Linked DNA regions of Homo sapiens: all the other regions are linked to region 1. The links come from fine-mapping of genetic effects on gene expression. A gene starts in region 1. Each other region holds a variant in brackets. All regions are shown on one strand. Distances are between the middles of the regions.

Region 1 (5,443 bases):
GACTCTGGGGTGAACAGCTGCTGCTGATTTGCCCAAGCCTGGGAGCTGTTGAATCTGCCCAGTGGGGGCAGGGCGGGGCAGCCGCTCTCCCCTTGTATTTCGCTTTGTCATGGGTGGGGAGGTAGGGAAGGAGGTTAGTTTGTATCCCAGTTTTTTATATGGTTTTTAGTAAAATATCCTTTTCTGTTTTTACTAAAAGTACCCTTCCCTCTTCCTTCCACTCCCATAGGTCTCAGATTCTAGTCCAGTGTGGGACTGGTTAGGAGGTAAATGCAGTGAGACATGGAATACTAAATTGCCCCTCCCACAGGCAGATTGACTGGGGGACAGGGGTCCACAGCTCTGTCGGCAACATGAGTTCAGACGTGTTCGAAGTGGGTGCAACTTAAGTTTAAGATGGGTCCTCACCTCCTTGTTCATAGAGCTACAAGAGTGAAGAAGAGGAAAGGATTAATTCATCCTGCAGAATTGAGAAAGAGCTTACAAAAGAAATGTCACTTGGGCCAGGCGTGGTGGCTCATGTCTGTAATCCCAGTACTTTGAGAGGCCAAGGTGGGAAGATCACTTGAGGCCAGGAGTTCGAGACCAGCCCTGGGTAACCCTGCCCCTACAAAAAAAAATAGCTGGGCATGGTGGCACATGACTGTAGTCCCAGCTACTTGGGAGGCTGAGGCAGGAAGATTGCTTGATCCCAGGAGTTCGAGACTGCAGTGAGCTGTGATGGCACCACCGCACTCCAGCCTGGGAAACAGAGTGAGACCTTGTCTTAAACAGAACAAAAGAATTGTCACTTGATCTGGGTTTTAAAGAGGGCTGTCAGATGGGGAAGGGAATTTCAGACAGAGGGAAGAGCAAAAGCGCAAGGCCCTTAGAGTGCTTGTTAGTTCAGACAAAGCTCTTGCTTCAGGGAATTTACACTCCAATGCAGTGAGATCAGCAATAAACAAACATGTGCATCCTGTTAGGCAGTGATAAATGCCAAGAAAAAAAATCAAACAAGGTGATAGGGCGTCTGGGAGTGGCATGGGTGCTATTTTAGGTGGAGAGGCTAAGGCCGGCCTTTCTGCAAATGTGTTTTTTGAGCAGAGACCTGAATGAAGTGAGGAAGTACGCCACGCGGGTAACAAGAGAAGGCCATTTCAGGCAGAGGGAAGAGCCAGAGTGCAAAACTCTGAGAGGAGCAGGCTTGTGTGCTCAAGAAGGCCTATGTATCTGGGGAACAGTGAGAGAAGAGGGCAGTGGGAGGAGAGGGAGCCACCATAGGGCTTTGAGCAGAGGTCATGATCAGTCCATCAGTTTGGAGAAGAGGCTTCTGGAAACATGGGCAGAAACAGAAAGACCAGTTAGGAGGCTTTGCAATGATCCAGGCGAGAGAGGACAGGGTCCTGAGTGAAGGTGATACCAGCAGAGGAGCAAAGGGGTGTTGGAGGATATTGCTGGATTCTGGTTATCTTTTGAAGGTAGAGTCAACGGGATTTGTTGATAGACTAGATAACATTGGAAAGGTAGGTTGTTGCTGAATTGGGAATTGAGACAATTTCTGAACATACCACTTCCCTCTTAAAAATTTCGTGTTAAAGTCCAGACTCATTAGCAGTCATTTATTCATTTGCTTATTCATTCAACACATACTGATTGAATGCCTAGTATGGACCAGGCATTGTGCTAGGTGTTGCAGGTAGACACAAAATTTAAAAGTAGGGCATACTGGCCGGGCGCGGTGGCTCACGCCTGTAATCCCAGCACTTTGGGAGTCCGAGGCGGGCGGATCACGAGGTCAGGAGATCGAGACCATCCTGCCTAACACTGTGAAACCCCGTCTCTACTAAAAATACAAAAAAATTAGCTGGGCGTGGTGGCGGGCGCCTGTAGTCCCAGCTACTCGGGAGGCTGAGGCAGAAGAATGGAGTGAACCCGGGAGGCGGAGCTTTCAGTGAGCTGAGCTCGCGCCACTGCACTCCAGCCAGGGTGACAGAGGGAGACTCTCTCTCTCTCAAAAAAAAAAAAAAAAAAAAGGGCATACTTTCTGCCCTTACAGATCTTCAGTCAGATGGGTGACACAGACAAGTACTTAGGTTATTACAACCCATGTGACAATTGCTACCATGGGGAAATACAGGGGGAAATAGGGGCATATAGGAAAGGTATCTAATTGGAATTGGCAAGGCTCCACTCGTACCTTACCCCGAGGTCAGCTCAGTTTTGAAGTTCACTCTAGCAGTGCTGACCATTGCGGGGCTGTGAGACAGTACAGTCTGAGCTCGGTCATCAGCGGGTGGCCAGCTTTGTCTCTGCCGCTCCGCGGCCCGGGCTTACTCGAAGGTCCCCGGGGAATAGCCTCACCTTTGCCCCACTTCCCAGTCTAGCCCCTAACTTCCCGCCGTCTATTGGCTGCGCAGCCGCCCAATGGGCAGGCGGAAACCGCGGGCTCGTGCTCCCGGCCTAGGGCGTCTTATCTCGTTCGCGCGTCTCGCGAGCATTAGGTGACTGGCTGAGGCGGCGCCAGTTGGCCGGGCACGGGGCTGCTGTAAGGCCGAGGTTGCGGCGGAAGCGGAGACCATGTTCCGAGCGGCGGCTCCGGGGCAGCTCCGGCGGGCGGTGAGTCCGGACTGGGAAGGCGAACCCAGGGACGGCCCCCCGTCAACCCGCCGTCCCTATGGGGTCTTGCAAAGATCACTGGCCCCCTCAGATTCGACCAGCCCTCGCGCCCGCAGGCCGGTCCCCGCCTGGGACTTGGGTCCAAAGTTCTGGGGCCTACCCTGGACTCCCTGCGGAACGCCAGTTCGGGGCAGAAGTCAGAGGTTTGGGGTCAGGGTGACCCCGAATGATGTGAATTTGCGCGTCTGCTGCCCCTTCTTCTGGCCCACTCTCTGCCCTGCCGTTTCCCACCTTTGTCGGTCACTCTGGGCACTTTCGGGCCGCCAGGTCCTCCACACTTGCTCCACACCCGAGGGAGCAAAATGTCACCGGGGAATGCCCTGTTGGGGAAAGTTTCAAACCTAGATTCCTCCCGGAGGCCGGCATTTCTGGAAGAATTAAACACTTTGGGCGCATCGTGGCTACTCCGACCCACTCACTGTCAAGGGCGGGGGTGGGGTGGGGTGGGAGGCTGCGTGGCCAGTTATGGAAGCTGGTTCTGCTTTCTGGTTTATGGAGCAGGGCTGAATTTAGGTGATTGTATTTGTAAAACCTGCGATCCGATTTGACAGCTTTAGCCAGTTTTGAAAGGCAGACGTCTTTTTATATGCTTCAGGCTGACCTGCTTTTAACCAGCAGATTGTAGATTAGGTTAACTGGTGACAGTGGTACATTTTCAGTGTTTCATTAGTGACAAACCACATTTCTCTCTTCTGTTGTGAGAAGGACTGATAGGAAACATATTTTCCTTCTCATGCTGTGGGAAAGGAGTATTTGGAGACTGACCAGTCACAAGTCAAGTAACAATAATTTATATTGTGGATTGTGTAGTTTTCCTAGTTTACATTTAGGTGAAATGAGAAACAAGATTGGTAAACTTGGGTCAGAAACTTACCTGATGGTTTGTACCTTTTCTCCTTTTTTTTTTTTTTTTTTTTTTTCTGGGCATGGATATTTTCCCATCCACTCCTGGGATTTTTCTCTCTGAGGCATAGCTGGAGCTCTTTCTAGATGTCTGTAGACATTAGACTTTTGTTTGTTTGTTTGTTTGTTTGTTTAAGAGACAAGGTCTGGCTCTGTTTCCCATGCTGGAGTGGAGTGCAGTGGCACGATATGGGCTCACTGCAACCGTCGCCTCCCAGGTTCAAGCGATTCTCCCACCTCAGCTTCCCGAGAAGCTGGGATCACAGGTGCGCATCATCACGCCTGGCTAATTTTTTTTTTTTTTTTTTTTTTTTTTTTGTAGAGACGGGGTTTCCCCATGTTACCCAGGCTGGTCTCGAACTCTTGTCCTCAAGTGATCCACCTGCCTCGGCCTCCCAAAGTCCTGGAATTACAGGCCTGAGCTACCGCACCTGGCCTTAGACATCTTTTTTCTTGTGCGTATTCCTTGTTTAATAAAAAGTTCTGACCCTCCCCTCCCCTAAAGAGTTCAAACCCATGTCTTTCAGGTTAGTGTCCTGTCTTCCCCTCAGGACATGTTTTCTCCCGGTTGGGGATCTAGACATAAACAAGTGAAAATCATGAATTTGGGGAAATTCCAGGAACCTGAGCCAGAAGAATGCTGCTCTATGCAGCAGTTGGAAAACAGTTTTGTGGACAGATTACAAGTCTGGCCTAAGTGAAATTATAATTGTGGTGGGGGATGGAATTTAGGACTCAGTAATTTTGTAGAGCTAACAGAAAAAAATGGAATGATTAAGTAATTTTTACTATCCACATCGTTGGCTAATGTGTATAGACATTACTTCCAGATATTCATTGTGGTTTGCCAAAGACTTTGACCTTGACTTATTTTTAAAATTTGAAGTCAAGCTAAGTAGAATAGCTGTTTTTTTTGTTTGTTTGTTTGTTTGTTTTGAGACGGAGTCTCGCTCTGTCGCCCAGGCTGGAGTGCAGTGGCGCGATCTCAGCTCACTGCAAGCTCCGCCTCCCGGGTTCACGCCATTCTCCTGCCTCAGCCTCCTGAGTAGCTGGGACTACAGGTACCCGCCACCACGCCCCGCTAATTTTTTTGTATTTTTAGTAGAGACGGGGGTTTCACTGTGTTAGCCGGTATGGTCTCGATCTCCTGACCTCATGATCCGCCCGCCTTGGCCTCCCAAAGTGCTGGGATTACAGGCGTGAGCCACCGCGCCCAGCCTAGAATAGCTGTTTTAAAGTCATTAAGAATGTTGGAGAGATTTGGATTTCTAGCATAAAAGAAATGGTGGCAACACTTCTAAAGTGGACCCATATATTAATAGGGACATATACCTGTATTTAACTTTTTAAATTTTGAAATAGTTGCACTTATAGAAAAGTTGCAAGAATAGTACAAAGAAATCTCAAAACCCTTCCCCTGGTTTTCCCAGCATGTTAGCAGTTTGACACATTTGCTTTATCTTTCCACATATATACATAATACTATCTTTCTGAACCATTTGAAAGTATGTTGCAAATGTGCCCTTTACTCCTAAATAATTGAGTGATATTTTAAAAGAACAAAGAGGTTCACTTTCTAACTACACTGTAATTGGCAATATCTGGAAGTTTCACCATAAAATACTGTTTTCTAATCTATGGATGTTCAATTTTGCCAGTTGTCCCATTAGTACAGTTTATAGCAATTTTCCTTATTCTGGTCTAAGATACTCTAGATGTCCTGCAAGTGGTTTTCATGTCTCTTTACTCTGTTAGAAAGGTTCCTCAGCCTTCCTTTGGGTTTGATGACATTGGTGTATTTGAAGAGTACAGGCCTTCTATTTTCCAGACTGTCACTCAATTTGGGTTTGTCTGGTGTTTCCTCATGATTAGATTCAGGTCA
Region 2 (5,506 bases), 40 kb before region 1:
TCAAAGAAAGGATACTTTTCTAGTTAATGAAATGGTAACCCGTACTCAGGAAATGTTTTTAAAAGACTGCCAGACTTCTTTAAGGCTTTAACTATTGTATTTATCTTGCTTTTATTCTAACTATAGGAAATAGATAATTACTGAAGAAAGATGAATTAAAATTAGTTTATTTGTACATTTTTAAATAAATATGATTTTCTTATATGTATAAAATAAAAACCTGTTATATTGATTTTTTTAATGTAAAACAACTTTTAAGTACAGCCTTATATTTTAAATTCTGTAGGGCTAGAATCAGAATTAGTGCCATAGCAAAGTACTATTTCCACATCTAAATTAACTTAGTCAGCTGAAAAACCAAGTTGACTATGCTTTAACATTTGCTACTAACTAACTCATCCTGTGAATTTCTTTTTGTCATTATAGAGCATTATTTGCTGAAAATCTCCCATTTCTTTCACATGTTCCACCATAAGATGTGTTTTTGCTCCATGACACACATGTGATGAGTAGACAGTACTTTCTGGTCTTCAGAATAATGAAACAGAAAGCAGAGTTCTGTATTAGTATTCTTCCATATTCTGGTGAATATACATCTATCTCTGTCAAAAGGATATGATAGTACCCAGCTGGCTGGGAACTAGAGGATAGCTAAGGAGTTCCCCGAGCCCTCTTCATCTTAGACAACATTTCAAAGTTTATGTTTTCCAAACTATCCTGTATTAGATAATTAATAAACGCAACTAGATCAATTATGTTAGAAAAGTTTTGTTTTCGGCTTAATTGTTCTGTTTGAATCTACGTTTTATTTTCTGGAAAAAAAGTTAAATTAGATATTTAGATCTACAAATATGGATTTCAAAAACTGTCTTATAGTTAATATCTTAAGAAAATTTTACAGTATATAACATCATATCAACACTTAGGATTCTTCATATATTTTTAGAGCCTTAGGATTAAATTAAATAGAAAATACATTATGGACCAGGTGTGGTGGCTCACATCTGTAATCCCAGCACTTTGGGAGGCCGGGGTGAGCAGATCACTTGAGGTCAGGAGTTTGCGACCAGCCTGGCCAACATAGTAAAACGCCGTCTCTGTGGGCACCTGTAATCCCAGCTACTCGGGAGGCTGAGGCAGGAGAGTAGCTTGAACCTGGGAGGCAGAGGTTGCAGTGAGCCAAGATCATGCCACTGAACTTCAAGCTGAGTGACAGAGCGAGACTCCATCAAAAAAAAAAAAAAAGAAAATACAAATACATTATGGATAATTTTAAGAGTGTGCTCTTTCTAAATTCAGATTATTCATTCTTTTATTGAACAGGTAATTTTTGAGTGTGTAAGGTGTGCTGGGCACTGCAAATACAGCAACAAATAAAACAGATAAAAATTCCTGCCTTCACAGATCTTTCATTAAAGTGGAGAAGAGTCAAGCAAAAGACAAAAAAAAAATTAGTAAAACAAATAGTATGTCAGATACTATGCTAAGTGCTATGGCAATAAGTGCTGTGGAGAAAAGTAAGGCAGGAAAAGGAGCTAGGGACTTCAGGGAGATGATGTGCAGGTTTTTATGATGTGGGCAGAGAGGCTTCAACAAAGAGACAGTGATGTTTGAGCGAAACCAATTTCACATCTGTATCAGCTTAGTTCCTTATGTTTTCAACTGCATAGACAATGACTTATAATGATACAAATGATATCAGGATCTAAAGATTATATATATTTCTTGTGTTTATCTGATATTGATCACAAAGTACTAAGTCTACCTTTGTCTTACAAAAAAAATCTGTAACATAAATTTTGTAAATGCTAAAAAAAATTTCTTATATTGTTTATTTCAGATAGCATATTAGACTTGTAGAGTTAAATCAAGTGTTTTTCTATAAATAATTGTGCTCAAGAGAATGAATATAGATAGGATTTTAGTTTATAATGTGGTTCCTCAAGGTCTCTTATGTGTTACATTATAACTGAGTTACTAGAAAATGATATTAAAATAGCAGCTGGTTGTCTTAGGTTTCTGAAGATTTACATATTTTATATTACATTTTTCATTTTCCATCTACATGCAAAATTACCAGACTTTAAGATTTAGCTGCAGAATACATAGAGCTTTCATATTTGTACTTTTTAAAAAAATGATCAACACCTGTTGATATTTTAAGATAGTAAATTTGGCTTAAATTTTAGTTTTATTAGATAAAAAGTTGTAATTTCCAAAGTAGGCAGCAAGTTGTCCCCTGGTGATAATTTAGCAAGATGTAAGTCATTACTATTTATGAGAACCTGCACTACGTAACATCAGTTTCTTCAGCGTTTATATTTGGGCCCCAAAATATTCATACAAAAGTGGTTGCATGAATCAGAAGTATATTTAAAGCCACCCTTAGTGAAATTCTCTGTTCATAGCATTGATAGAAAAACACTTTTCTCTCCTCATACAGGATTTGGCACAGACTCCAGGTCAAGCGGAAAACCAGCCTTACCAACCCAAAGGTATGTCTCTATTGAAATTAAATTTCATGTGTTTGTTAGCCAAATGGACATCTTTCTTATCCTTTCCTCTGGAACTGCTACATTATATGTAAAATTTTATACATAACCTAAAAATATTTGAGATTCAGATACCAAGTATATTTCAGTAAGTAAAGAAATCGATTTTGTCATGAAGCATGAATGCATCCAAATATGTATAGAAATCTGTGGGAGTAAAAGAAAAGCACAAATATCTTTGTATAATTTATAATCATCTCATGCAAGATATATTAAATGGTAAATAATTACTAAAGAGCCGCTTTGTAATACAGGAGCCAGATCATTAATACTGGCCCACATTTCTCACATAAATGCTGAAATCACATAGGTTTGGTTCCTTATCCATGTTCAGAATAAAGTTATCAGTAATAGTAGCCCACAGTTTCCCCCCAAGTTCAAGTAGTTGAACTTTTGTTTTGAAAATAATTGTTTTACATGGAGAAAAAGTCATCTAATTGGCAAAGTCCAGGGCAAAAGATTTACAAGTTGTTTTTTTTTCCTATAGCATTCCTGCTGGGGTGTTTGCTGTGATCAGAGTTAGAGATGTAGAATTTTTACCACATTTTTACTTTTTTAAATATTCTGCTACCCAGACTGTAATTGAGAAGTACAAGTTGCTCTTTGGGTGTTATGACAGCATCTCTGATGAATGAGAACCTAATCCAGATCTTCTTCAATTCTTCCATTAGTTTGATAGTCTTTAAAGTGGCCATTTAGAGGTACACTCCCAGCAGGACCCTTTAGGGCACCCACCAAGAAACCCTTACTTGGTGGGGGTGGGGGTGTTACCTTGGACTCTTTCACACACACACACACACACACACACACACA[A/CACAA]AGTCCTCTACAGTGGACAGGTGTTGAAAAGTGCACAGAAGAAAATATAACTAAAGCTATTACAATATCATGAAAAGAAAAAAAAAAGACGTTTTATTGACTCAGGCACCCAGAAAAGTTAAACAGAAAGCTATGCAACTTTTCAGAAATTCAAGTCCACATCCTTGTCGGTACCATTTGTCTGAGCAAGAATTAGTCTGCAAGTTCAGTTCTGCCCTGACCCAGTCACAGCCCTTTTTTTGTTTTGTTTTGTTTTAACTACTGGAGGATACTTGGGGAGAAATCAGCAAAATGTGTTACTGTTCTTACAAAACAATTTCATTTTGAATAAATTAAAATGCTTAGAAAAATCTAATGTATTTATTTTCAATTGTACAGCAGTTTTGTTTTGTTTTGTTTGCCACTAAGAAGTATAAGCATTTTTTTCTTACTCTTTCTCCTGATCATAAAGATGAGTCACAATTTGTTACATTGTCTGGAAGACACAGTCCCAGAAGCTGCCTCTCTCTGCTTGGTGGACTGAGGCCTGTGGAAGTCTCAACCTTCTTTCTTTTCCAAGGGACCATCTTCCCTGATTTTCATGCTTTCCCCCAGTTACAGTAGGCTTAACCCACAGAACAGCAAAGGGGGAATTGGTCTCTCCTTTGCTCAGAAAGGGTCATCACTATGTTAATGACAGCTCATAATATGTTGCTTGATTTTTTTTTTAATGATGATGCCTAAGTTGCCAGTTTGCACCTTGGGTATTTGTTCCCCTTTTGCCTAGATTAAGTCCTCATAAAATGTCTCAAGATATTTTGAGTTCATTGTCCAGGTAAACCTTTAAATATAAAAGCAGCTCTTGGTAATACCACATTCCTATTGCCCAGGAAGAATTTTGGTTTTCAAATACCTACTGCCTGTCTAGCTGCAATTGTTTACTTTACCTATGTCACTGGCCAGTAAAGCTCCTATCATTCATTCCTACTGCTTTGTTAGATAGGCTGTGCTATATTTGAATAATTTTAAAGATATACTTAAAACTACATTCATGTTTTAAATTAAATAGACTTTCAGAAAACGTCATCATTTACATACAGTTTTCCCCTTTCATGGCTAACTTAAGGATAGAATATAGGACTGTCATTTTAGTTTGTTCTTTTTTTTGTTTTTTGTTTTTTGTTTTTTTTGAGACAGGGTCTCTCTATGTTGCCTATCCTGGAGTGCAATGGCTACTCACAGGTGCGATCATAGCAAACTATAGCCTCTAACTCCTGGGCTCAAGCATTCCCCCGACTTCAGCCTTCCAAATAGCTGGGACTACAGGCGCGCACCACTGTGCTTGCCTGGTTGCTAATTTTTTTCTCATTGTGGAGTCCAAAAACATCTTTTTGTAATTTATATAGGGGTTAATGTCTGAATATGTTAAAGGACAAACTGGATTGTGGTTAAAATATATGTCATATATTTTATACTACAGATAGATTGATACATATAGATCAATCACCTTATTTACCTAAATTGTGTCATGGTTTATTTGAAGTGGATATCTCCATTTTATACTCAGATATCAAAATAAGTTTAATTTATGAATCTTCAAAGAATTTAACCCTCTTTTATTTAACTTTTTTCTCTTTTATCCCCCTCTCAGGGAAATGCCTTGGTTCCCAAGACTATCTTGAGCTGGCTAACAGATTTCCTCAGCAGGCCTGGGAAGAAGCTCGACAGTTTTTCTTGAAAAAAGAGAAAAAATAAATGTTTTGGTTGATTCTGTATTTGAGTACCCTTGTTAATATTTTAAATTGTCCAAACAAACATTCTAATTGTTCCTTAAGAACTCATTTTCCCATGTTTATACTCTTCCCACACTGTAGATATGGCATGTACTTTACACTATTTATAATGACTGTAGATACTTGAATGTTCTACTTGCTAATTTTGCAAGTTGAGTTTATTTCATTTATGCAGAGTATCTTGGAGTTTGGTAATTTCCATCTTATGATAATATATACTTTGCATTTGTGATATGGGTGAAAGGAGACATAAAATTAGCAAGTCTGTTTTGTTCTTGTAATAAAGTAACTTATTCTGTTTTCATTGTTGACTTTTCATGTTAAGGAAATACGAATCTGAAAGAAAAATGTTAACTCCAGCTCTTGAAG
Region 3 (5,506 bases), 82 kb before region 1:
TAATAATCAAAACAGCATGGTACTGGCATAAAAACAGACACATGGACCAATGGAGCAGAATAGAGAACCCAGAAACAAATTCATCTACAGTGAACTCATTTTTGACAAAGGTGCCAAGAGCATAAATTAGGGAAGAGTCTCTTCAATAAATGATGCTGGGAAAACTGGATATCCATATGCAGAAGAATGAAACTAGACCCCTGTCTCTCACCATATACAGAAATCGAAATGGATTAAAGACTTTAAGACCTCAAAACTATGAAACTACTACAAGAAAACATTGGGGAAACTCTTAAGGACATTGTACTGGGCAAAAATTTCTTGAATAGTACCCTGCAAGCACAGGCAACCGAAGCAAAAATGGATAAATGGGATCACATCAAGTTAAGCTCCTGCACAGCAAAGGAAACAATCAATCAAGTGAAGAGACAATCCACAGAAGAGAGAAAATATTTGCAAAGTACCCATCTGACAAGGGATTAACAACTAGAATATATAAGAATTCAAACAACTCTATAGGAAAAACTCTAATAATCCAATTTTTAAATGGGCGAAAGATCTGAAGAGACATTTCTCAAAAGAAGACATACAAATGGCAAACAGGCATATGAAAAGGTGCTCAACATCATTGATCATCAGAGAAATGCAAATCAAAACTACAAAGAGATATCATCTCATCCCAGTTAAAATGTCTTTTATCTAAAAGACATTCAATAACAAATGCTGGCAAGGATGTGGAGAAAAGGGAACCCTCATACGCTGTTGGTGGGAATGCAAATTAATACAACCACTATGGAGAACAGTTTGGAAATTCCTACAAAAACTAAAAATAGAGCTACCATACAATCCAGCAATCCCACTGCTGGGTATATACCCAAAAGAAAGGAAATCAGTATATCAAAGAGATATCCACACTCCCATGTTTGTTGCAGCACTGTTCCCAATAGCCAAGATTTGAAAGCAGCCTAAGTGTCCATCAGGAGATGAATGGATATAGAAAATGTACTCATACACACAATGGAGTCCTATTCAGCCATAAAAAAGAATGAGATCCTCTCATTTGCAACAACATGGATGAAATTCGAGGTCATTGTGTTAAGTAAAATAAACTAGGCACAGAGAGATAAACATCACATGTTCTCACTTATTTGTGGGATCTAAAAATCAAAACAAACTCATGGAGATGGAGAGTAGAAGGATGGGTGCCACAGGCTGGGAAGGGTAGTGGGTGGGTGGGAGAGAGCTGGGGATGGTTAATGGGTACAAAAAAATAAAAGCGTTAGAATGAATAAGACTAAATATTTGATATCACAACAGGGTGACTATAGTCAGTAATAATTTAATTGTACATTTTAAAATAACTAAAAGAATATAATTGGATAGTTTGTAACACAAAGGATAAATGCTTGAGGAGACAGATAACCCCATTTTCCGTGATGTGATTATTACTCATTGCATGCTCGTATCAAAATATCTCAGGTATCCCATAAATATGTATACCTACTGTGTACCCACAAAAATTTTAAAAACATAAAATGAATTTTTAAAGCCTTTGAGCAAGGAAGTGACCTGCTAAGAACCATATTTGGGAGCACTGGTCAAGTGTCGTGTGAAGAATGTATTAGAAGGTGGAAAGTGCAAGGGGCATTAACAGTTGTCCAGGTAAGAGACGAAAGGAATGGAAAGAAGAATGTTTTGAAAAACCCTCCCATAGACACTCTTTTTGTGTATGGTATCACCAGTCTCTCAGGCATCAAGCTCCAAACCTCATCATCTCTAATCTCTCCTCCTGATACCCCAGATCTAATCTACTGCCACATTCTGTTGATTGAAAGGAAACTTAAAGTCCCCTATCTGGTCTTCCAGTCAGGTTTGAATCTTTTCAGTAAGCCTCTCTGTCTCTGTTGAACACCTCCAGTGACAGGAAATTCGTTACTTAACTAAGGGGAGCTTGAGTTGTTGTTGCTTAAACCATCTCTCCTTATACCAAGCTGAAATCTGTCTCCCTAGTGCTACCTATTAGTATAAGGCCTACTTGCTCCTTGGCAACATGCAGACTAATATGAACCTACTCTTCTTCCTGAACTCCCCTGGTCTCACGGTACCTCATATTTTCCTTTGCTTTTCTTCTTGTTACGGTTACAATAACTGCAACAAATTACCCTAAAATTTAGTGGCATAAAACAACCATCTATTAATCTCACAGATTCTGTGGGTCAGGAATTCTTTTAAGGTACGGAGAGGATGGGTTATCTTTGTTCCACAATGTCTGGGGCCTCAGAAGACTTGAAG[G/C]CTGGTGGTTGGAATCATCTGAGTGCTTATTCACACATCTGTGGTAGATGCTGGCTGTCAGCCAGGGGTCTTTCCATGTGGGGTCTCTGCATAGGCTTAATTGGCTTCCTCACAGCATGGTGGCTGTGTTCCAAGAACAAGCATCCTGGCAGTGAGAGAGCAGCTAGAAACCATATCACCTTTTATGACTCAGCCTCAGAAATCACACAGCATCACTTGCACTACATTCTATTCACCAAGGCAGTCATGAAGTTCCATCCAGCTTCAAAAAAAGGAGAAATAGACTTTGCCTCTTCCTGGGGAGGATGAAGGTTCTAGAAGAGCATAGGGGACCAGAAATGTTGCTGTGGTTATACTTGAAAAATATAGCCTGCTACTTTCCACCCTACCCTAAAGATAAATGAGTTCCCAGTCTCCTGTTCTCAGCTGCCTTCTATTCTCTCTGCAGTCTCTTATTTGATACTGTCAGCCCATTCCTAAATATTTTGTTGTCATTAGCTACTGTCTTTGGACAAAGGGTTTGTTGGTATTGGGAGATAGGCAATGAAGTGAATGTAACAGGACTAGGCAAGTGGAACTAAAAGAAGTAACATTTGTTAAGCACCTTTGATACACCCTGAGCTGAGTATTTCATGTGGGCTATCTCCCTACAAGCATTCAAGAGTCCTGCTCACGCTGTCAAAGGAGTTAAAACAGCCACTAGACTAATAAGGAGGAGTGACTGTCCTTATCCTTCAGATCTAGAGAATGGGAAGAATACAGAAGCAGGAACTTCTGGGGTGTCTCTGTACTCACAATGGCAAAGTGCTAATAGAGGGACTTCCGAAAGATCCATCCCAGCTGACATAAAGCCCTAGTTACTTGAAGGAATGGAAAGATGACAACTTCATTGGTACAGTTCACATGAGTGCTCACTATGTGCTAGGCAGAAAGGGAACTGGCTGGGCCCCAGCTCGTAGGGCCAAAGTTTAGGACAGTCTCCACTGACTTACCATTCTCACAGGGGACAAGGGATGATGGCCTCAACATGCAGGGTTTAGAGGAGCAGAATGTGTCCAGGATACATTTGCAGCCAGATTCTCACTGGCTCTAGGAGACTGAGAAGGCAGGATCTCAAGAGGAAAACTGTGTGTAATATTATGTTGAAGAGCAAAGGTTAGGAAGTCAGAAAGATGTGGGCTCAGTTTCAGCTTTCTCAGTTCTGTGACCTGTGGCAGCGTGCAGAAGAGTGATCACGGCTTACTGCAGCCTCAATCCTCCAGGCTCAATCTATCCTCCAACCTCAGCTTCCCAAGTAGCTGAGACTACAGGGATGCACTGCTGCGTTCCACTAATTCTCTGATTTTGCTTTGTGTGTGTGTGTGTGTAGACGAGCTCTCCCTATGTTGCCCAGGCTGGTGTCGAACTCCTGGGCTCAAGTGATCTTCCTGCATCAGCCTCCCAGAGTGTTGGGATTGCAGGCGTGAGCCACCATGCCTAGCCCTGGTTCTTTAGGTTTTCAAAGCCTGTTGTTCACATATGAAAATGAATGTGTTACTTCTTCCCTCACAGGGTTGGACATGACAGGAGTAAATGGGGGCTAACATCTGTCACTCTTACTTCTTGTCTAAGATGCTATTTTTTACATATTCTTGTATTCATTATAACACATTTTGTTCCAAAAACTTGAGATAGCTTATAGAAGTATATATATGTTATTTTTTTAATTAAAAATTAAAAGGAGATAGGCAGGAAAGGTAAATCAAGCCACAGCAAGTAAGGTTAAGGCCCAAACCATATTCATAACAAGGCCATGATAGACATTTCCTCCTGGAATTCCTACTGGCAATTTCTACCAGGAACTTATATTTAATATGTTAGATCCTGAGCTCATTGGCTTTCACCCAAAGTTGGCTGTCCCTCCTGACTGCCTTATTCTGCTCATGATTCCAGCAATCTGAGTAGATTTTAAGACCCAAAGCCTTAGTCATCTTTGACTTTTCTTTCCCAGAATCCAATCCAGTCCTATTTGATTCCATCAAAGGGATGTTTTCCTCTGAAATATGAGATGGAACATACCATTTATGCCACTTACTTGGTATTTGTCAACGTGCAGTTCATTATTTCTCTTTCCTTGTATACATGGTTTGTGTCTAGAGTTAAAAGTATTTACCTAGAGAAAGAAGCTAAATATCCTAGCAGCTTCCCGTCAGGCACATAGCACCTGAAACAAAACAAAATAAGAACTTGAGAAACAGCTGTTCATTGGTAGAGCTAGCAAATACTAGTGAACGATCATTGGCCTATGTCGGAATCCCATTTCCTGGGCCTATTCTATACATAAGAAGAAGGACTGCCCACATCTCATGTTCTTCTTTCTCTGAGTTAGGAAATAGGCATCCAAGGCCTTCATTCCTTTGGCATGCCTTGCTAAGATCAGTTCTCCCTTTCTTCCTTCTATTTCTTTGGCAAATATTTACTCATACCTATTTACTGAGTATGTGCTATGTCCCAGACCTTGTCAAGGTACTGGGGATCGATTGATGAACAAGATACCACTCTGATGAAATTTACAGTCTAATGGGGAAAAAACAATCAACCAATATACAAATAAGATTATTTTAGCTAGTGACATGAGAAAATAAAGCCTGGTAATATAGCCGAATGTCTTGGTCAAGGGCTTCTGCAGACGAAGTGGTCAGGAACGGCCTCTCTGGGGAGATGACAAGCTAAGACGGAACCAGGCATGTAAAGACCCAAGCAAAGGGTATTCTAGTTGAGAAGAATGGCAAGACCTTGAAGTGGATGTTCCAGAAACAGAGAAAGTGATATATTGGAATGTGAAGAGCCAGAAAGAAAGTGGTAGAAGTTGAAGTCAATAAGTAAAGGCCAGGAGATGAGGACAGAAAGGTGAGAAATCTGAATTCTGCTCTTAAGTGTGAGTGGAAGCCACTGGAGGATTTTAAACAGGAGAGTGGCTTAAAAAGTAAAAAAGCATCTGTTTACTCTGTGAAAAATGGATTAGAGAAGCAAGAGTGGAAGCCAGAAAGATCATTTAGGAGGGTACTGGAATCTTAATGCAGCACCTGATATGACAGTTTTTTCCTCCCAGTTACCCTCCCAGCAGAAGCAATTACCTTTACTTGGCAACACAACATAGCCTCTGGCAGAGCTCCTTCAGCCCAACTTCCAAACTGTAAAGAGAGCCCCAAAGTATCAACTAGCCAAACCAGTG
Region 4 (5,506 bases), 390 kb before region 1:
AGTCTTTGCTATTGTGAATAGTGCCGCAATAAACATATGTGTGCATGTGTCTTTATAGCGGCATGATTTATAGTCCTTTGGGTATATACTCAGTAATGGGATGGCTGGGTCAAATGGTATTTCTAGTTCTAGATCCCTGAGGAATCGCCACACTGACTTCCACAATGGTCAAACTAGTTTACAGTCCCACCAACAGTGTAAAAGTGTTCCTGTTTCTCCACATCCTCTCCAGCACCTGTTGTTTCCTGACTTTTTAATGATCGCCATTCTAACTGGTGTGAGATGGTATCTCATTGTGGTTTTGATTTGCATTTCTCTGATGGAGAGTGATGATGAGCATTTTTTCATGTGTCTTTTGGCTGCATAAATGTCTTCTTTTGAGAAGGGTCTGTTCATATCCTTCGCCCACTCTTTGATGGGGTTGTTTGATTTTTTCTTGTAAATTTGTTTGAGTTCATTGTAGATTCTGGATATTAGCCCTTTGTCAGATGAGCAGGTTGCGAAACTATCTGATCTTTGACAAACCTGAGAAAAACAAGCAATGGGGAAAGGATTTCCCTATTTAATAAATGGTGCTGGGAAAACTGGCTAGACATATGTAGAAAGCTGAAACTGGATCCCTTCCTTACACCTTATACAAAAATTAATGCAAGATGGATTAAAGACTTAAACATTAGACCTAAAACGGTAAAAACCCTAGAAGAAAACCTAGGCATTACCATTCAGGACATAGGCATGGGCAAGGACTTCATGTCTAAAACACCAAAAGCAATGGCCACAAAAGCCAAAATTGACATATGGGATCTAATTAAACTAAAGAGCTTCTGCACAGCAAAAGAAACTACCATCAGAGTGAACAGGCAACCTACAAAATGGGAGAAAATTCTCGCAACCTACTCATCTAACATTTCCTGTTTTTACTAAGCAATTTACTAATGACTTGAAGGCATTAGAGGTAGGCTTCTTATATTCATAGGTTTTAATCACTCAAAAGTAAAGTAAAAGATGTTTCTTATAATTTGCTTCACTTGATTTCAGTGCTTATGAATTGTATAATTATAGCTTGGGAGATTATGATAAACTGATACTTTCTAGAAAATTTTTAGCATTACTACAACCATAGGCAGTCTCTAACAGTATGAATGTTTCATATTATATCACAGTTATTTACATGCTGGCTCCTCACAGAGATAGTAAAACCCCTAAGGTAGAAGACTGTATTTTACTATTTGTATAGTCCTAGAAATCTATCATGCGTTTAAATTTATTGTAGCAGGTATTTATTGAGCCTTGTGGTAGGCAGGGGAATGCAGAGATAAGGCATGGTTCTGATTTTTAAGAAACTCTTCATTTACTTTAAATTCAGATGCTAAGTACATAACCTCCACATAAAGAGAGGCATACATGAAATGCTGTGGAAGCACAGAAGAGGACACTTAGTCTAATATGAGGAGTGTCAGAGGTCAGGAAGTGATTTTAAAGAACACTTCCTGAGCTGGATCTTGAAAGGAGGATGAGTAAAATGGATAGGTAGGTGCGATGCCATTCTAGCCATATCAAATAGATGAGTATAAGGACAAAGGTCTGAAATAGCGTTTTTTCCCCCAGGATTGTCACTGGAGGTATAAAAATGGAGTAGGTTATAGGTTTGGTCATGATGGGCCTTGCCTGCTGTATGGATAAGCATATGCTTTACCCGTAGGTTAACATTTCCCATGGTGGGTTCCAGGAAGTGGTTCTCAAAAATGTGTTATTGGCAAATAATTTGTAAGTTGATGCCTACTAAAAGCTAGGTGCATTGAGTCATATATCACAGTGACGTACTGGAGGTTCTGTAAAGTTCTACATTAAAAACCTGTTTAGTTTTAGCTTGCTGTTTTCCAAATTTATTTGACCATGGAACCTGTTCTGTAAAACACTTGTTAATATCTCCTGGAGCACACTTTAATAAACATTACTGTTCATGTGGGTGATATTAAAGGGCTTTGTGTAAAGCTTTGTCTTCAGTGTGTAAGTTGTCATAGAAACGACATTCTATTATTTTTGAAGTTTTAATGGAAATATTATTTTTCCAATTTCTCACCATAATTTGAATAATTTTTGAAATTCTTGCACTTTGACTTCATCTACAGCATGATGAAAGTATTCGAAGGCACATGGAACAGATTGAACAAAGAAAAGAAAAAGCTGCTGAGCTAAGCAGTGGGCGACATGCAAATACTGATTATGCCCCCAAACTGACCCCTTATGAAAGAAAGAAGCAGTGTTCTCTCTGCAATGTCCTGGTAGGTTGTTATATCAATATTGTAATGATATAGTTTACTACTAAAGTTTATGAAACCATGGAAATATATTCTTGCAGTCTTTTAAAACTCACGCTAAGGCAGGCGAGATGTGGCAGCTCACACCTGTAATTTCAGCACTTTAGGAGACTGAGGTGGGCGGATCACTTCAGGCCAAGAGTGCAAAACCAGCCTTTCCAACATGGTGAAACCCTGTCTCTACTAAAAATACAAAAAATTAGCTGGGCATGGTGGTGCATGTCTGTAATCCCAGGTACTCGGGAGGCTGAGGCATGAGAATCCTTTGAACCCAGGAGGTGGAGGTTGCAGTGAGCCAAGATCATGCCACTGCACTCCATCCTGGGTGACAAAGCAAGACTCTGTTTCAAAAAATAAAACTCATGCTAAGGCATCTGCTGAGTGACCTGGATTTCTTTCATGATTCTGAATGAAAAGTGGTACAAATAACATCAGCATTTTGGAATAGCAGTAAAAGTGCTCAAGAATATAGTTACTATTAAAATGGATGATTACCTGCTTAATGTGATAGCCCAAGTCAGTATTTTTGGGGTATTAGATCTAAAAAAAAAGCAACATTTTCACTGCTGAGACTTGAACCTTCAAACTTAGAGGAAATAATTTCCTCTTAGGCTGGCTGTAACATGTCTTTTTTTT[G/TG]TTTTGTTTTGTTTTGAGATGGAGTATCGCTTTGTCACCCAAGCTGGAGTGCAGTGGCACGATCTCAGCTCACTGCAACCTCCGCCTCCCAGGTTCCGGCGATATTCCTGCCTCAGCCTCCCAAGTCTTTTTTTTTAACCATTTGCCTTCTAGAGGATTCTCAGAATTATGTTCTGAGGAAACTATTTTTAAGACTAATATGTAAATACTAGGTGGATCTCAACTCACATATCATATACTGGACTGAATGTGTAGTGTTTAAAATTCATATAATGTTATATTGATTACATTGCTTTGATTTTGTGCTTTCAGATCTCTTCAGAGGTATATCTTTTTAGCCATGTTAAAGGGAGAAAACACCAGCAAGCCGTGAGAGAGAATACCAGCATCCAGGGGCGTGAACTGTCAGATGAAGAAGTGGTAAACTTTATTTTTGTTCATTTACAATTGTTTATTGAGTACCCAATATGTGCTGTTTTATTATAAAGAATTCCGTGTTTGTATTTATTTCTATGATTATTTAAAACTATATTTAGCACTTAATAGCTACTACAATATAGTGTACAAATGTGTCATTATTTTAGTGTATATATTAATTTAACAAGAAAGATAGAAAAAAGAATTTAATGCTGTTATTTACATAATTTCAGTATAAGGAAATGTTATGGTATATTGATATTTTAATAATGCAGGAAAATAATCACTCAATGACATGCCACATTCTTGGAAAACAGTTAACCACATAAATTTCACTTAAGAGGATAATTTTGGATCAGTATACCATTTAGAAGCTTTTGGAAATTCATTATTTCTTCACACATAATTATTGTCAACATGGAATTTAGATTTGTATAAATATGTATATGAATATTTTTCATTTAACTCTTTTTGAAACTTGGATGATATAGCTAATCTATGAATTTATTGTCCTATTTATTATAGTAAATTTTTAAAACTACTCAAGAATAAGAAATTCATATTTGTTAAGCAACTCAAGCTGTCCAGGAAAAGTTATTGTGGGTTCTTTGAGGGCAGGTACCTTTATGTAGGTGCATGTGTATATTGAACTTTTTTTTTTTTTTAGGTATGGCATTCATTAGTCAAGAGCATAAATCTCAAGTATATAGCTGATGAATTTTTACATATGTATAAACTGATATAAAACCACCCAGATCATAATATAGATCATTTGTTGTACCCTTTGGGCTCCTCTTATGCCCCCTCCTACTTATGTCCCCAAAAGTTAACTACTGTGAATTTTTGTATCATTATTTAGTGTTGCCTGTTCTTAAATTTCATACAAATGTTATCATACAGTATGTATTCTTTTCTGCCTGACTTCATACATTCATGCTTAAGCTTGTGAAAGTGATCCCTATTGTTTATGTGAAGCTGTAGTTATTCTTCTTAGCTTTATGTCAGTGCCCTCCTGTGTAGCATCAGGAACATGTCTGTAGTTGAATAGTATTTTATTTAATGACTTGTTAAAAGAAGGGGAAACAGGAAGAGCCAAGATGGCTGACTAGATGCAGCCAGGAAGAGCATCTCCCACTGAGAGACCAGACCATCAAGAAGGCTGGCACACTCTGAGCAGATCTTCCTAAGGAAGGCATTGAGAGTAGAGGAAGGGAAGGCACACCCTGGGCTGAAGCTGCAAGAGAAAGCAGGGAATGTTGCCTGGCTTTGTAGAGCACCAGGACTCTCTCCTGAGGAAGAGGTGGCTAACTAAGCAAGGAGTGGTCCACTCTCACCACGGACCTCTGGAATCCTAGCTGCAGGAGACCCCATGACCCCCACGGACATTTGAGCTGTCAGGGAGAATTGCTTGGAGAGGTGGCAGGGACTGGAGTCCAGCTTGTGAAGAGTCCAGAGGGTTTGACACAGGAACAGCTGCTGTGGAGGGCAGCCAGAGATGCTCAACCCTCAAGTCTCACTGTGTTCCTCTAGGTGGCTTTGGCCATTATTGTCCGTCAGACCTGCACACAGCAGGGCTGTCTTGACAGTGGGACAGGGCCAGTGTAATCCGAGCACTCTGGTCTGATGGCATCTCTCAGGGTCCTTGCCTGGCCATGCCTTCTTGCAGTGCGGACTTGGATGCCCAAACGAGGTGCTTCCAGGTGGCTGCCACCGTAGCTCCTACCCCAGGAGACCCTGCCTGACCATCGGAGAGCTTCTGTGGATGGGCCCCTGCTGGCGTGCAACTACCCACAGCCTCTCCCCACCACTTTCTGGCAGCTGCATGGACTTTGCCACCATGCTGCTACTGGCACCGGTGCAGGTATGGACTCCGTTGCCATTGCCCTGCCATCACCAGTGTGCGAATACTGTTCACACTCTGCCAGCTGCAACTGCGTGCATGTGGAACCTGTGACTGCTAGCCTGTGCACTTGAACCTGATACCACCATGTTGATGAAGTGATTTTGCCAGCGCCCGCCATTGAAGTGTTGTTGCCAGCGGACCAGGAACACCTTAGCCACTCCAGCGCAGCAAGTGCTTAACTTTGAGGTGCCTAAGAGCAAAGCCATGGGCCTGGTCTCAGTCCCCCAGG

Alleles and levels. Positions count from the first base shown, and alleles are read on the strand shown. Sizes are in standard deviations (SD) of each study's normalised expression. Not every link is listed here.
For the expression in activated CD8 T cells of the gene that starts at base 2,479 in region 1, allele CACAA in region 2 goes with a higher level than allele A (large effect, 1.4 SD a copy in Schmiedel 2018).

What was found. PIP is the estimated chance that this variant, and not a neighbour inherited with it, causes the effect. A credible set is the group of variants that fine-mapping cannot tell apart.
Region 2: its variant is the best candidate, but not a certain one, in a credible set for the expression of ETFA in activated CD8 T cells (Schmiedel 2018, PIP 0.78).
Region 3: its variant is the best candidate, but not a certain one, in a credible set for the expression of ETFA in whole blood (TOPMed, PIP 0.76).
Region 4: its variant is the best candidate, but not a certain one, in a credible set for the expression of ETFA in whole blood (INTERVAL, PIP 0.82).

What each region holds. Positions count from the first base shown.
Region 1 is chr15:76,308,505-76,313,947 of GRCh38, reverse strand. It overlaps ETFA (electron transfer flavoprotein subunit alpha), which reads left to right and starts at 2,479. Exons shown (of 12, transcript NM_000126.4): 1 at 2,479-2,598. The coding sequence starts at 2,560. RefSeq lists a cis regulatory region at 1-295 and enhancers at 1,857-1,906, 1,967-2,016, 2,226-2,726, 2,727-3,227.
Region 2 is chr15:76,348,226-76,353,731 of GRCh38, reverse strand. It overlaps SCAPER (S-phase cyclin A associated protein in the ER), which reads left to right. Exons shown (of 32, transcript NM_020843.4): 31 at 2,444-2,495; 32 at 4,996-5,506. The coding sequence ends at 5,099. Among named protein-coding and RNA genes, the nearest start is that of ISL2, 14 kb to the right of the region's middle. The variant A/CACAA (reference allele first, on the strand shown) is at 3,366.
Region 3 is chr15:76,390,722-76,396,227 of GRCh38, reverse strand. The region is part of intron 27 of SCAPER (S-phase cyclin A associated protein in the ER); the gene reads left to right. Among named protein-coding and RNA genes, the nearest start is that of ISL2, 57 kb to the right of the region's middle. The variant G/C (reference allele first, on the strand shown) is at 2,293.
Region 4 is chr15:76,699,629-76,705,134 of GRCh38, reverse strand. It overlaps SCAPER (S-phase cyclin A associated protein in the ER), which reads left to right. Exons shown (of 32, transcript NM_020843.4): 19 at 2,133-2,285; 20 at 3,270-3,377. Among named protein-coding and RNA genes, the nearest start is that of MIR3713, 120 kb to the right of the region's middle. RefSeq lists enhancers at 4,803-5,303, 5,304-5,506. The variant G/TG (reference allele first, on the strand shown) is at 2,958.